Regions from separate parts of the Homo sapiens genome. Here region 1 is linked to region 2. A link means that fine-mapping ties the variant in region 2 to the expression of a gene that starts in the linked region. Tissue or cell type: whole blood. Region 2 holds a variant in brackets; the other region holds the start of a gene. All regions are shown on one strand. Distances are between the middles of the regions.

Region 1 (2,701 bases), 92 kb before region 2:
CTACAAAAACTAACTTAAAAGTTAGTGGGGCGTGGTGGCACACGCCTGTAGTCCCAGCTGCTTGGGAGGCTGACGCAGGATAATCACTTGAGCCCAGCAGCTCCAGGCTGCAGTGAGCTATGATCGTGTCACTGCACTTCAGCCTGGATGACAGAGTAAAACCTTTTCTAGAGAGAAAGAAGAAAGAGAGAAAGGGGAAAAGAAAGAAAAAGAGAGAAGAAAGAAAACTGCCCTCTTGATTGTAGTCCCTCTGATTGTTTCAATATATTTAAGTACTTTTGGGATAAAATGTTGACATAAGGAGAATCATGTGGCTTCTGTGACAATGCCTGTCAGCTTCTCAGGCCTTTCTCTCACATAAGACATCGAAAATTTATGCACAGTGTATTTTCCCTCTAGATCCTTATGCTGCTGACTCCCACTCCCGCCCCACTCACCCGACACGGTCATACTTTGTTTTGGAGCAAAACAAATGTTAACATTGTGTTTCCAGACACCTGGAAGCCCAGGTTTGGTGATTCTGGACTGCACTCCACTTTGGTGGTAGGGTCACATTCGCGTTTAAAGGCCGACGGGGAGGAAACACCGAGCACCGGGAAAACCCCTGCAGTCACCGGAACGTCGGGCTTGGGACGTGCCGGTTTGGGCGCCGAGCTGCGGTGCCGGCGGCCACCCCGGGGGCAGGCAGCAGGGAGGAGCATGCGGGAGGGCTGTGACATCTCAGGGTGGAAGCAGCTCTCTGCTCTGGACGCCTTACAAGTCCCCCGTTCCAACTATCACCTCTGGCCCATTGTCGCCACCGCCTCCCTCAAGAGTGCACGGCAGTAGAGGAAAAGACAGTACCGTCGGCAACAGCGCGATCAAGTACCGCGTGTAACTGATAGACACGCTCGCGACTCCCGCGGCGCCCCTGCCCCGTGCCCCCGCGCTCACGAAGACGCCCGGAACTCGAGGGTGCGGAGCCAGCCCGACTGTACCCGGCGCTCCCGGCGCCCCTTCGCGGGGCAGAGACAACCCCGACCTCCCGCCGCGGCCACCTCCCGGCGGGCGCGGGCCGAGGAACTACAGCTCCCGGCAGGCCCCGCGCTGGCCGCGCGCCCCCGCCCCCCGCGCGCCCCGGCCCCCCGCCCTCCGGCCCCAGGACGGGACGGGGAGGGAGGGAGGAAGGGGCGCCGGAGGCGGGCGGGATCCTGCGAGGCGCGTGAAGCCTCGCTGGCGCCTCGTCCGGTACTCAGACGCTGGCGGGCGCAGTTTCTCACGACGGGCCGAGCCTGCCACTGTAAGTAGTCGCCTCGGGGAGCGCTGAACAGACACCGAAAAAGTTCGCGCCGCCGCCGCCGCCGCTTTGTTCTCCCGGCCCGTCGGGCTGAGGCGGCGGCGGCCCCTCCCCCATCCCCCAAACCCCCAACCCCCCAACTGCACGCGGCGGCGGCGGCGACAGGACTCGGACCCCGCGCCGGGCTGGGCGGTGTCAGCCGCGCTGGGCGGGAAGTTGGGGGAGCGCGCGGCGGGAGGTGGGCGGCTGAGGGGGAGCGGGGGCGCCGCCGCAGCCGCCAGAGGGGCCAAGTTCCGGCGTCCGCGCGGAGGGCAACTTGGGTTCGCGCTCCGCTGGAGACCACCGCGCCCGGCCCATCGGAGGCGATCCGTTCCCGGGTCTCCCAAACTAGTTCCCGAAGCCAGACCCGCGGCGCTCGCAGTGCCGAATTTTGGACCAGCTTTTTCGTTTCATTTCCTCACTTTGCGTTGTAGTCGTCTCAAAGGGGTGAGTAAATGGTGCTTGGAGAATGTAAGCCCCTCGCCCCAGTATCCCGACTGCGTTTGGATTTGCTAGTTGCAGCATTGTTCCGAGTTGCTCCCTCCTGGGAGGTTTTCCTTAAGCTGAAACACTGAGGAGTGCCACTGTTTCTTTGAGCAGTGAAAATAACCATATACTACTGTATTGCCGGTTGGGTATTTTATTTCAGGTGAACGCAGTCAGAGGCATAGGCCTTGCCGTCTGCAGGCACACATACGATTCAAGCGACAAGTGTGTGCGCGCGACCTGCCGACTTTTCCACACACAGATTGATGGCATGGACGTAACTGTGTCTTCAATCACACCCATCCCCACAGGAAATAAGACTATCGGTGTCATCTTTGATTAGGAAGGATAAGTTACACCCTGAACTGCTGCTTGGTGCGACACAGCTTTTATGAGACATAGCCACAAATGGAACAAGAACTTTTAAATGCCTTAATTTGTATCCTAGAAAATGTTATTTTATTCCTCTGAAACTTTTTTTTTACCCTTCTACTTAATGTCGTCGTTCTTACATTTTTAGCGATTTTCATTTTCCTTAGCTTTGCTGCAGAAGGCGTCCATAAAGTTCCCCCGACTGAGATCTAGGCCAGTTTTTCCTTGTCAACGAACCCTTGCTTCCTTCCCTGTTAGATTCCGAGTTAAGATCAAGCATGGACATTCAGCCAAGAAGTTAGAAGATTTTCTAAAAGTAGGATTTGAAACGTGTCACACAGAAACCGTGGAAGGTTTTTCTTCAGTAGGTAGTAATACAGTTGTGGTGGGCCTGAGTGCATGAGCTTGGAGTACTCCTTGACGAGCCAGGTTCCATCCTCGGTTCTATAATTTAGTATATAGCATTTCACATTTCAGGGTGACTCAGGTTCTGTAATTTAGTATATAGCGTTTCACATTAAGAATGTT
Region 2 (2,607 bases):
CCATTGAAAATACAAAAAACCTAGCTGGGCATGGAAACATACACCTGTAATCCCAACTACTCGGGAGGCTGAGGCACAAGAATCCTTTGAACCTTGAAGGTGGAGGTTGCAGTGAGCCAAGATTGCACTACTGCACTCCAGCCTGGGTGACAGAATGAGACTCTATCTCAAAAAGCCAACAAACAAAAAAGCCCATAATCAAGCCAAAGACCCAATAATTAACAAAATTTTGAAGTAAGGATGAGCACGATGAAATCCTGAGATGCCTGTGATCACTGTATTGTGATAAGGAAATACCAATGATTTCCACAGATGACAAAGTCACAGGTATTGCTGATGCTACTAGTTGCTGCGTATGTTCATAATTGAAGAAATGCTAAATTTCAGTTGAAAGTTAGTGAAAATAAAGGTATAATATTTTTTCCATCCAGCTTCATGAAACCCCTGATTTCTATTAAAGGGTCCCTAGGTTAAGAGCCTCTACATTTTAGAGTTACCCCTACTCTCAATGCTGGGAAACCTTCCTTTCTCTCAGTATGTTCTCCCTGGTTCCTTGGCTTTAAATATGACCTATATGCTGATGACGAGCAAATGTATATATGCCTGCCCAGTCTTTCTTCTGAACACCAGGCTCACTTTTTTTTTTTTTTTTTTTGAGACAGAGTCTCGCTCTGTTGCCCAGGCTGGAGTGCAATGGCGAAATCTAGGCTCACTGCAACCTCTGCGTCCCGGGTTCAAGCGATTCTCCTGCCTCCTGACTAGCTGGGATTACAGGCACAAGCCACCACGCCCGGCTAATTTTTGTATTTTTAATAGAGACGGGGTTTCACCAAGTTGGTCAGGCTGGTCTCAAACTCCTGACCTCGTGATCCACCCGCCTTGGCCTCCCAAAGTGCTGGGATTACAGGCGTGAGCCGCCACGTCCGGCCCTGAACGCCAGACTCTTACAGCGAATTGCCTACTTTCTATCTCCACCTGCATGTCACTGCTAACAAAATATGTATAAAATGCAGCTCCTGGTGTAGGCCCTCTCCCTAGTACTCCTCCAAACCTGGTCCTGTCTGTCTTAATCTCAATAAAAGGTACCATCATCACCCAACTGCTCAAGCTAAAAGTACGAATCAGCCTTGATTCCTCCGTTCCATCACTCAATCCATCGGCAAATCCTGTCAGTCCCTTTCTAAATCACCCTCTTCTATTTCTAGTACCACCACACTAGTCTAAGCCACCTATCTTGCAGCCCTGCCTAACCGGCATCGAAAGAAAGATACCGGCCTTGGGTAAACCTCGACACTAGAGTCACACTACCATATCCAACAACAATGGCCAA[T/A]CTAACCCCAGAATTCCACAGAGGTCATATTTCAACCCAGCAAAAGATGAAATATTCTAAAATAAAGGACTATAGGCTTTCACCAAATGGCTCTGTAGAACAGACAAGGAAACGTGGGTCAGAAAGCTGTGACTGTGCCTAATCCTAGAACAGTGAAGACGACCCAGACTGCATTCTCAACTGCACATGTGAGAAAACCCAGCACATGTCTCCAATGCCAGCTGAAGCCATTCCAACACAGACGACTTTCCAGGCAGTAATTCCTATTTCCAGCTGCCTGTTGGAGATTTCTACCTAAGAGTCCCACACACTTCAAATTCATATACCAGCCTGAACTCTCCATCCTTCCTCCCGTATTCCTTCTCCCAAAGCAATGAATCCACACCACCCACCATCAGCCAAGTAGGAAAGTCATCCTTCCCGCATCATAAATCCAATCAGCTACATTCTGTCTCCTAAACACCCTTGGACCGTGTCCTCTCCTCTTTACTGGCACTGCCTCTGACGTGAGCCAGCCCTGACCAACTGACAAATTATCTGTCCCCAGGTCCTCAGAAATGGCTCTTCCCCTGGCAGGCACCCCCACTGCCTGGGCTGAGAACCTTCGGGCTTCTCCCTCCTGGCTTGCACCTCGCAAATCGGCTAGAGAGGGCCTAGTCCTCGGGCTACCCGACCCATACCTTGGCTGGATTAGTCAACACCTCCTTCATGTACTCGGCCACAGTGATGGGACCAGTAGACTTTATTTTGTACATAAGATGCCGCAGCATCGGCGTCACCGGGTTTTCTGCAGGCTCATTCCCGGAGCTGAAGTATTTCCCTCTCCAAATAAAAGGAATGGCTGCGAAAAACACAAATTAAACAGACCCCATGATAAATCTGACCATTCACGAGCGCAAGCCGCCTGAGCGTTTTCAAAACAGCTTCGTGAACCCTTAACCTCGCCCCACCGCAGACCGCGGGCTACTGTGCTTAGCACGCCCACGGGGCGCAGAGACAGCACCCACTTGCCCACGACTACGCAGCCCTATTGCGTTTGTACCGGACCCGTTTCCAGCCCAGGGTACCTTCAAGGTGGAAGTGAGCCCCCGAGCCCTTGATCCCCCGGTACCCTCAACTGAAGAGCTGAGGAAGGCGCCCCACGCGGCTTCCACGGCAACCGGGCTTCGAGGGGACTGACGCTTACCTGCGCGCGCCACGGCACACAACGGCCCCAAACCTGACCTCAGCAGTACACTCATGCTGAAATTCGCAGGCTAGCTCGCTCCGCCAGGAGC

The links. PIP is the estimated chance that this variant, and not a neighbour inherited with it, causes the effect.
Region 1: it holds the start of PRKD3, and the variant in region 2 is fine-mapped to the expression of PRKD3 in whole blood (TOPMed, PIP 0.97).

The regions. Positions count from the first base shown.
Region 1 is chr2:37,323,259-37,325,959 of GRCh38, reverse strand. It overlaps PRKD3 (protein kinase D3), which reads left to right and starts at 1,127. Exons shown (of 19, transcript NM_005813.6): 1 at 1,127-1,279. It overlaps PRKD3-DT (PRKD3 divergent transcript), which reads right to left and starts at 879. Exons shown (of 2, transcript NR_183394.1): 1 at 438-879. RefSeq lists a silencer at 767-1,396 and an enhancer at 2,037-2,116.
Region 2 is chr2:37,231,670-37,234,276 of GRCh38, reverse strand. It overlaps NDUFAF7 (NADH:ubiquinone oxidoreductase complex assembly factor 7), which reads right to left. Exons shown (of 10, transcript NM_144736.5): 1 at 2,517-2,607; 2 at 2,011-2,171. The coding sequence starts at 2,571. Among named protein-coding and RNA genes, the nearest start is that of NDUFAF7, 1.3 kb to the right of the region's middle. RefSeq lists an enhancer at 2,137-2,607. The variant T/A (reference allele first, on the strand shown) is at 1,331.